2 separate regions of the Homo sapiens genome follow, and region 2 is linked to region 1. A link means that fine-mapping ties the variant in region 1 to the expression of a gene that starts in the linked region. Tissue or cell type: whole blood. Region 1 holds a variant in brackets; the other region holds the start of a gene. All regions are shown on one strand. Distances are from middle to middle.

Evidence for each region. PIP is the estimated chance that this variant, and not a neighbour inherited with it, causes the effect.
Region 2: COX8A starts here. The variant in region 1 is fine-mapped to the expression of COX8A in whole blood (TOPMed, PIP above 0.99).

What each region holds. Positions count from the first base shown.
Region 1 is chr11:63,999,025-64,004,275 of GRCh38, forward strand. MACROD1 (mono-ADP ribosylhydrolase 1) reads right to left here. Exons shown (of 11, transcript NM_014067.4): 5 at 1,203-1,319; 6 at 618-739; 7 at 506-536; 8 at 307-380; 9 at 1-12. Among named protein-coding and RNA genes, the nearest start is that of OTUB1, 15 kb to the left of the region's middle. RefSeq lists enhancers at 1-590, 164-253, 591-1,526, 1,539-2,046 and silencers at 384-623, 1,274-1,853. The variant C/G (reference allele first, on the strand shown) is at 2,648.
Region 2 is chr11:63,971,736-63,976,735 of GRCh38, forward strand. It overlaps COX8A (cytochrome c oxidase subunit 8A), which reads left to right and starts at 2,885. Exons shown (of 2, transcript NM_004074.3): 1 at 2,885-3,059; 2 at 4,490-4,808. The coding sequence starts at 2,946. The coding sequence ends at 4,585. RefSeq lists an enhancer at 2,799-3,238.

The DNA of each region.
Region 1 (5,251 bases):
CAGCCGGTCCACCTGCGCCAGGGGCTGCTCAGCCTGGGCCGAGCTGCCACGCCTGGCCCCAGGATCCTGTGACTGCCTGCCCTGGTGCAGGCTTTCACCTGCCTGGCCCTGCGCCCTTCACGGAGGCTCACGGCTGTGTGCCATCACCCCCATCTCGCCACCGCCAGGCGCCCTTGCGCAGGAGAAACAGGGAAGGAAGGGGCGGGCCTGGCCCTGCGCTCTGCACCCTGACTCCCTGGGCGATGATGGGGGCTGGTCACTCTGGCCGGGATGCGGACCCCACCCTCGCCCGGGCCCAGGACTCACCTTGTCCTTGTGCTGCTCCAGCCACTCTCGCAGCGTGGCCAGCACGATCTCGGCGGCCGCCTCACAGGGGTAGCCTGAGGCGGGTGGGGCGGGAGTGAGTCCTAGGCTCTGGCCCCGCCCACTCCCCTGTCCGCCCCGGCCCCTCCCGGCGTCTGGGTCCACCGCCCACTCCTGGTCCTTGCCTTTCTTCCAGACTCACCAAACACGCCGGTGGAGATGCAGGGGAACGCCTGGGCGGGGAGGGGTGAGAGGGGGTTGGAACATTGTCACTGCGCCCCGCCTCCCGCCCTCCCCCGCGGGCCGTCCCTCACCACCGAGCGGAGCCGGTGCTCCAGCAGCAGGTCCAGACTGCTCAGGTAGCAGCTGCGGAGCTCGGCAGCCTGACTGGCGCTGGGCTCCCCGTAGGCGATGGGCCCCACTGTGTGGATGACGTCTACGGGGGGCGACGGGGTCAGACCGGCGGGGGTCTACGCGGTCCTCAGCTCCCTCGCTTCCCCCTGCCGGCCTGGGCAGAAGGGGGCAGGAAACACCTTTCCCCCCAAGCGCTGAGCCTCCTCCGCGAAGGCCCCCACCCCTGTGGGCCCCCTCGAGCCCGAATCCGCACGCGCACAGAGCCCCGCGCCCCCTCCCCACATCTGTATGGGCCCGGCTGAGACCCGAGCGCGAGTGTGGGCGCGAAGGCGTTGCCCCCCAGCTCCATCCTCAGCCTCCACGCACGGTCTCCCCCATGTGCTTCCTGGGGTGTGCGGGGTGGGGGCCGGGTCTTGGCCCTTAAGGTTAAGAAGGGCCCCCTGAGGAGTTCCCCAGCACTCCTGTGGGGGCCGCACCCCTGATGTCCCAGTGACACACGGGCGCCCTGTCTGCGCCCCACAGCTGGGGGCGCGTCGGGGACTCACACTTGGCCGGGAGCCGATAGCCGCCGGTGATCTTGGCCTTGCCAGTCTTACAGCTCTGCAGGGTCCGGCACTCGTCGGTAAGCAGGGGGCCGGCGGCCCGATGAATGCAGCCGTCCACTGCGGGAAGGGCGGGCGCGACTGAGCTGGCCTGGCAAGGCTGCGGCCCCGGGGTGAGCACCCTCAGTCCCGAGAAGCCCCTCGGCGATGCGAGGACCCATGCGGAGCCGCGCCCCAACCCCGTGGCCTCCGGCCGCGGCCGCTGCCCCCACCCCCGCCCGGAATGTTTCACATCTGGGGAAACCGAGGCGCAGAGCGGGACGGCCCTGGGCCTGGCGGGAAGTCGCGCAAGGAGGCCGGCAGGGGGCGCACCCGGCCCACCCTGTCCCTTCCAGGCCGCGCCGCCAGGGCCCAGGCAGGGCGGCTCCGGGAGGCGGGGGCCGCCGGGACAGGAACCGCCGCCCGAGCCGGGGTGACGGGGAAGCTTCCTCCCCGACGCCCCTCCCTAGCCCTGTCCCGGGCGCGCTGCAGGGCCCGCGACCAGTCGCTGCCTCCGCCCGGGCCTCAGCGTCGGTGCGATCCCAAGGCCCACCTCCCCAGGCGGCGCCCCATCACGGGGCGGCGGCAAACCCTAGGACCCATTTTGCGGATGAGGAAACCGAGGCCACCTTGTTACAGGGTGATCAGATCTGTAGCTGGAGTCTGGGTCTTCCAGCCGCGCGGGGAGGTGAGCCCGACGCCCGGGCCCGAGTCTCCTGGCGCGCAAACCCCAGCTGGTTAATGAACCGCCTCGTTAGCGCATCCAGCTTAATTACGGCCCCGCATGGGCTTGTTTATCCGAGGGCGGCTGCAGGGCCTCGCGAGCGACCCTGGGGACCCGGGCGCAGATAAACAACCGGGGCGCAGCGGGAGGCATGGAGGAAACGCTCCAGCAGCCCAACCTCGCCAGGGCACCGCGCAGGAGAGGCGCGGCCTCAGGCAGGCCTGGGTCCAGCCCGGGCTCACCCCTCATCGGCTGTGAGATCCTGCCCCTTCCCCTCTCTGGCGTCCACCCTCTTATCTGGAATACCGGGACAGCGACCCTCCCACAGAGGAAAACGCCGCGTGCTGGCCGGGAGGACAGGGCCCATCTTTGGCAGCTCTGATCGCCCACGCCAGGAGCTCCTCAGGCACCAGCTGCCTGGTGCTCACAGGCGGGCATCAAGAGAGGACCATCATTCCCCATTTTACAGATGGACAAACCAAGGCCACCTTCTCCTTCATCACCTCAGTCTCGGCACAGTTCCAGGGATGCCAGGTAGCTCACACCCCTTTCTTTTGCTGTTTGATCTCGTGCCCTGGGGGCACAATTAAACCTCATTCTGCAACTTTACTCAGAGCTGGCACCAGGCAATTTCCCAGAGCGTCCCAGGGATGGGTGGGCAGAGAGGTTAGGGGAACGCTGAGAA[C/G]GGCTCAGGCCTGGATCCCTTCCACCTGCTCCTCTCCTCTGCAGGGAGAAAGGCAGCTGTAGCCCAGGGCGAGGCTGAGATGGAGCAAGAAGGCAGGGCCCAGAGCGGGCGTCCAGGCTGGAGCTCCCAGTGCTGGGAAGTGAGTGTTCCGAATGGGGTGCCGTGGCTGGGCTGTGGAGCTGGGCAACGTGAGTTCACATCCTGGCTCTGCCAGCCACAGATGTGTGACCCCTCACATATCATTTAACCTCTCTGGGTCTCAGTTGCTCCATCTGGAAAATGGGATAATAGCACCCACCTCAGAGCTCATTGGGCTGTTGGAAGGATTGAGTTAAACTAACTTTGTAATGTGCTTAAGGCAGTGCTTGGCAAGAATGGAGGTCATGAGTGTATCCTGTTATTAACAACAGTGTGACAGTGTGGGCATGTTCGGGTATGTGTACATCAGTGTGATGGGAGGTGGGTGCACACAGGGTGTTCACAGTGTGTGGGGGTGAGCCCAGGGATCTGTCTGAGCTGGCTCTCCTAGGAGCCTCCCGGGTCGAGCACCTGGCACCGGCTGCTCGAAGTCTCTGGGGGCTCACCGCCCTGCAGGCGACCTCGGCCAGCTGTGGGGGCCCGTGCGGGGAAGTGGAGCTCAGTGTTTCAGGAATTTAATGTTTCCTGCGGAAGTGGACTGGCCTGCAGCCAGGCCTTTGGGGCTGACCTGGGGGCGCAAGGGAGGTGGAGGGAGCTGGAATCAATGCTGGCAGAGGGCTCAGGCCAGATGCCCCCTCCTCACCCCCAGCAGTTCCAGAACAGGGCCTGGGCCAGGTGATGGCTCTGCAGGGGCCCCAGGGAGGGGCTCCCCTAAAGCAGAGATGAGGGACAGGTCACTGTCAGCCCACTGCTACCCCAACAAGCTAGAGTGCAGCCTGGCCCCTCTTGCCTGCGTGTCCCTCCCTGTCCACACACCAGCCTTCTCGCTCTCTCCCCTGAGAGTGCAGAGGGGAACCCCCCCACCCTGCTCTCCTTAGCCATAGGCCCAAAGGACCCCTCCCACACACACTCCCAGAGTCCCCTTAGCTCTGCCCTCCAGGCCCTGTCCTGGCTCTTACCTGGGGCTAAGCTAGGTCCTAGAGACTCAAGCTTCCTGGGGTCCCATTCAGGGGAGATGCCCTTCCTTCCCTCTTCCCTCTTCCCACCCCACCCCAAGGCAGCTGGAAAAGACCAGCAGCCCTGATCCCTGGGGCTACCTGGTGGAGGTGGGGTATTCCCAGTTCACAGGAGCTGACCAACCCTTAGTCTCCTCTCCAGGGCCCTCAGCCACCAAAACAAACCTCCAGGCTCCAGCTCAACCCTCACCCCAAGTCAGCAGAAAACCTGGGGTCTTTCCTGGGGAGGCAGAGCCCACTTGGGTGGCGGGACCCCCCTGAGATGTTTCTCCATCAGGTCAAAGATGAAGCCTTCCTCCACCTGTGGCCAGAAGATGGCCCCTAAGGCCCCTCTGCCTCCTCCCTGCAGCCCCTTCTTCCCTCCACCCTCCTCTACCGTTAAACTCCCCCTGATATGGCTCCTTCATATCAGCCCTCTGTCTCACTATATCATCCAGGCTGGAGTGCAGTGGTGCAATCTTGGCTCACTGCAACCTCTGCCTCCTGGGTTCAAGTGATTCTTATGCCTCAGCCTCCCGAGTAGCTGAGCTTACAGGGGCGCACCACTATGCCCAGCTGATTTTTTGTATTTTTAGTAGAGATGGGGTTTCACCATGTTGCCCAGGCTGGTCTTGAACTCCTGACCTCAAGTGATCCACCCGTCTCAGCCTCCCAAAGTGCTGGGATTACAGATGTGAGCCTGTGTTTTTTTGAGACAGGGTCTTGCTATGTTGCCCTGCCTAAGCCTCCTAAGTAGCTGGTATGACTCACCCCCCATGGCCTTTGTCAGCCTTCTTGTTGGGTAAGCACCTGCGTGGTGATTTACAGCCGCTGTCTTATTATTTTTCCTGTTTATAGAAGAAGAAACTGAGGCACAGAGAGCAAAACTTGCCCACACGGCTGGAAGGTTGGGCTCCCAACCTCAGTGGCTCTGCTTCCTCTGGGACCACTAAAGGGCCTCGCCCTGAACCACTCTGGCTGACTGGTTTGAATGGCCCCCTGTCCACGCTCTTGGGGAGGCAGTGTCTCCCCACATCAGCACGTCCCCTTCCAGCAGGGGGGCTGCCCTGGTGGCCTCTTGTTGCACAGTGTTCTGAGGCCACTGTCTTTCTGGACGGTTTGGCTGCCCCCAGCGCTGACGGCTCCCTCCATCCAGCGGGACTTCCCGTCTCCTTCGTGGGCTCTCGTTCCTCAGGCCGCTCCTCAAATGCCACTGGGGCTCTGCCTGCCCTCGCCTGAGCCCGGAGGAACCTCTTTCTGCCCCAAGCCCTGGCCTCTGAGCGGCCCTTGACCCTCCGCCCCATCTTAGGCATCTCCCTGCTTTGCTGTGGTAAAGCCCTGCCTTCCAGCCTCCACGGCCAGCATTCAGCCCAGCATCTGTGCGCCTCCCATGGAAGGATGTTGTGGAAGGAAGGAGGGCTGGGCTGAGTGATTGCCCATGGCCCTGGGCATTCCTGGGGCAGTGGAGGGC
Region 2 (5,000 bases), 27 kb before region 1:
CACCATGTGGGGCAGGGCTGACACAGGTGTTGCTGGGCACAGAGGAGACACAGGCTTGGGGTGACCAGCGAAGGCATCCTGAGTAGTGCCACCCCACATATCTTCCTAGCACATCATGGTTTTATTTTCACCGTGACACTTACACAATAGTTTCTAATTAAGTGCCTGTTTATTGTCTGTTTTTTCCCTCCAGAAGTCAGCTTTGTGACAAGAAACTCTATCCACCTCGTTCATACTGGTGTCTACAATAGTTCCTAACACACAGTAGAGGCTAATAAATATTCACTGAATAAAGTAAGTGGTATCATTAACTGGAAGCCAGGAAGCAGGAGTTAGCATGGTGAAAAAGGCAGCCTGCATAGGAGCTGAAAAAATGAACATAAAATGCAGAAGCAACGCCGGGCACAGTGGCTCATGCCTGTAATCCCAGCACTTTGGGAGGCTGAGGCGGGCAGATGACATGAGGCCAGGAGTTCAAGACCAGCCTGGCCAACATGGCGAAACCCTGTCGCTATTAAAAATGCAAAAATTAGCCGGGTGTGGTGGCATACACCTGTAATCCCAGCTGCTTGGGAGGCTGAGGCAGGAGAATCGCTTGAGCCAGGGAGGTGGAGGTTGCAGTGAGCTGATATTGCACCACTGCACTCCAGCCTGGGTGATGCATGTCTCAAAAACAAAACCCAAAGTGCAGAGGCAAGGCCAGGTGCCCTGACAAATGCCTGTAATCCCAGCACTTTGGGAGGCTGATCTGGGTGGATCGCTTCAGCTCACGAGTTTGAGACTAGCCTGACTAACATAGCAAGACCCCCCTCCAGCTCTACAAACACTACAAAAATTAGGCTGGGCGCTGTGGCTCATGCCTGTAATCCCAGCACCTTGGGAGGCCAAGGTGGGTGGATCGCCTGAAGTCAGGAGTTCGAGACCAGCCTGGCCAACATGGTGAAACCTTGTCTCTACTAAAAATACAAAAAATAGCCGGGCATGGTGGCAGATGCCTGTAATCCCAGCTACTCAGGAGGCTGAGGCAGGAGAATTGCTTGAACCCGGGAGGCGGAGGTTGCAGAGAGCCAAGATAGTGCCACTGCACTCCAGCCTGGGCAACAGCGCAAGACTCTATTTCAAAAAAAAAAAAAAAAAAAAAAAGCCAGGCATGGTGGTGGGCACCTGTAATCCCAGCTACTTGGGAGGCTGAGGTGGGAGGTTGGCTTGAGTCTGGGAGGTGGAGGTTGCAAGGCTGCAGTGAGCCGAGATCACACCACACTCCACTCCAGCCTGGGCTTAGAGCTAGACCTTGTCTCAACATCAATAACAAAATGCAGAGTGCATTTTGAATGCAACAAAAGGCTTGTTGGTGGAAATCAGAGAGCAGGGTCGAAGGTGTGGAATATTGAAGAGTTTTGAGAGTTGAGGCTGGACAGTGACATCCGGGAATTGGGATTTTGACTAGGAAGCAATGGGGAGCCACTGAAAGTATATGACTTGGTCAGATTTAGGTTTAAAAAACCAAGAAGGAAGGGATGGGGGAGGGAGAGAGAGTGATAGGGTAGGAAGGAAGGGAAGTTGGCTGCTCCAGCATGGTAACTGGAATTGAAGAGTGTAATAGTAATTGAGGGAGGTTTGGTTACTAGGTCAGTGTCAGGAATTCTCAACAAAAACGACGGAGGCCTGGTGGAGAGGAGGGGACTCTCAATAGAGAGATTTTTTTTTTTTTTTTTTTTTGAGACGGAGTCTTGCTGTGTCGCCCAGGCTGGAGTGCAGTGGCGTGATCTCAGCTCACTGCAACCTCTGCCTACCGGGTTCAAGCAGTTCTCCTGCCTCAGCCTCCCTAGTAGCTGAGATTACAGGCATCTACCACCATGCCTGGCTATTTTTTGTATTCTTAGTCGAGATGGAGTCTCACCATGTTGGCCAGGCTGCTTTCGAACTTTTTTTATTGTTGTTTTTTATTTTTGAGATGGAGTTTCGCTCTTGTGGCCCAGTCTGGACTGCAATGGCTCAATCTCGGCTCACTGCAACTTCCGTCTCCTGGGTTCAGCAATTCTCCTGACTCAGCCTCCCGAGTAGCTGGAATTACAGGCGCCCACCACCATGCCCAGCTAATTTTTGTATTTTTAGTAGAGACGGGGTTTCACCATGTTGGCCAGTCTGGTCTCGAACTGTTGACCTCAGGTGATCCACCCGCCTCGGCCTCCCAAAATGTTGGGATTACAAGCGTGAGCCACTGCGCCCGGCCAATTTTTGTATTTTTCGTAGAGATGGGGTTTCACCATGCTGGCAAGACTGGTCTCAAACTCCTGACCTCAGATGATCTACCGGCCCCGGCCTCCCAAAGTGTTGGGATTACATGCGTGAGCCACTGCGCCCGGCCAATTTTTGTATTTTTCGTAGAGATGGGGTTTCACCATGCTGGCAAGACTGGTGTCAAACTCCTGACCTCAGATGATCTACCCGCCCCGGCCTCCCAAAGTGCTGGGATTAGAGGCGTGAGCCAACGCGCCCAGCCCGTACTTTTTTTTTTTTAGTACAGACGGCCTCCCAAAAGTTCTGAGATTACGGGCGTGAGCCACCACGCCCAGCCTGAATAGAGAGAGATTTAACAGTATGAATGAAGGGAGGAGTCAAGAACAGTTTAGGCTTCTCGCGTACATGATTGGGTGGCCCCAGATGTCATTCACAAGTATAAGCCTTGGAGGCGGAACATAACTCGAAGAAGAGCCCTTTTGTGCTCCGCCCATAGCGTAGGAAGGTGTCAATTGGCTGTTTCGAGGAACGCGCCAAAAACTGCCAAGGGCTGTGGGAGGTGTGTTCTTGCGTCATTTCCGAGAGACTTCCGCGCCGCAGTTTCCCTGCTTCCCCAGCTCCAGAACTTCCGGCCAGCGCAGCCATTTTGGCTTCCTGACCTTGGGCTACGGCTGACCGTTTTTTGTGGTGTACTCCGTGCCATCATGTCCGTCCTGACGCCGCTGCTGCTGCGGGGCTTGACAGGCTCGGCCCGGCGGCTCCCAGTGCCGCGCGCCAAGATCCATTCGTTGCCGCCGGAGGGGAAGCTTGGGATCATGGTGAGGAACGGGCCTGGAAGAGCGCGGGAGGCGCCGTGGGCTGACCCCTTCTGCCTAGCTGACCTCAGGTGGTCCTGAGAATGCCTCGCGCCCCGCAGCGTAGCGGGGAGCAGCAGTGCCGGTTTGGGCATGTCTGGAGGGCGCGAACGACGGGGACAGTGCCCGGGCGACAGTCGGGGCTGTCGGCGTTAGGTCTTTCCCCACAGCCCCAGGATCTCGGGTCTGGTCCTGTCAGGCCCTCCCTCTCCTGTCGCCTCCTCGCTGCGCCGCCTCCTGCCGACTTCTTTAGCCGCTCTGAGCCCATTTTCTCGTTGGTTCACTGGGGGATGCCTGACGCTGTCAGCGACGAAAATGGTTGTTACTGCTATTTATTTTATTTTATTTTATTTTACTTATTTATTTTGAGACGGGTTCTCGCTCTGTCGCCAGGCTGGAGTGCAGTGGCGCGATCTCGGCTCACTGCAGCCTCCGACTCCCGGGTTCAAGCGATTCTCCTGCCTCAGCCTCCCGAATAGCTGGGACTACAGGCGCGTGCCACCATGCCCAACTAAATTTTGTATTTTTAGTAGAGACGGGGTTTCACCATGTTGGCCAGGATGGTCTCGATCTCTTGACCTCGTGATCCGCCTGCCTCAACCTCCCAAAGTGCTGGGATTACAGGCGTGAGCCACTGCGCCCGGCCTGGGAGGGGGTTTTCAGGCAAGGAAGGATAGGTATCGTTTTGGAGTTACTGGCCCATGCAAGGATCCTGGGTCTTAACATACAGGCTTTGCTTTTTTTGTTTGTTGTTTGTTTTTTTGAGACGGAGTCTTGCTCTGTCACCCAGGCTGGAGTGCAGTGGTGCGATCTCGGCTTACTGCAACCTCCGCCTCCCAGGTTTAAGCCAAGCCATTCTCCTGCCTCAGTCTCCCGAGTAGCTGGGATCACAGGCGCCCGCCACCACTCCCGGCTAATTTTTTGTATTTTTAGTAGAGACGGGGTTTCACCATGTTGGTCAGGCTGGTCTCTAACTCCTGACCTTGTGATCCGCCCGCCTTGGCCTCCCAAATTGCTGGGATTACAGGTGTGAGCCACCATGCCCGGCCCAGACCAGCTTTAAAACAGGTTTCAATAAATCCTGCTTCCTGTCCCTTCCTTTACCATCTGGTGGTGCATTTCTCCCTGAACCCTAACCCCAGCTGTCTCTCCTTCCTCTCACTCTTCCCCCTCCTTATAACTGACCCTTTACCTCAAGGGTTAGCGTAGCTTTGGACCTGCTCTGTCTGCTCCGTGGAGCGTGGATTCCTTTAACGTGAGGATGCGGGGCCTCCCACTTGCCTCTGAGTCCTGGCTCCCTGAGCGGGGCTTTCTGCTGCCTGGGAACTGCAAGGACTTAGAGAGCCTAGGGGAATACTGACTCCGAGGTGCCTTCTTTCTTGTGCTCTGTGTAGGAATTGGCCGTTGGGCTTACCTCCTGCTTCGTGACCTTCCTCCTGCCAGCGGGCTGGATCCTGTCACACCTGGAGACCTACAGGAGGCCAGAGTGAAGGGGTCCGTTCTGTCCCTCACACTGTGACCTGACCAGCCCCACCGGCCCATCCTGGTCATGTTACTGCATTTGTGGCCGGCCTCCCCTGGATCATGTCATTCAATTCCAGTCACCTCTTCTGCAATCATGACCTCTTGATGTCTCCATGGTGACCTCCTTGGGGGTCACTGACCCTGCTTGGTGGGGTCCCCCTTGTAACAATAAAATCTATTTAAACTTTACTTCAGAAATTCATTGTGCCTTCCCTCCTGCCTGGGCTCATGCCTCCACTGGCACTGGGTGGAGGTGTGGAGAAGAGCGCCCGGCTGGCTGCCCTGTGGTAGGTTTTGTGTGCCTCAGCTGGACTCCTCGTGTGCTTCTGTACCTTTAAATGGTGCCTGGCTTCCTGGGAAGACAAAGCCTGTTGTCATTGT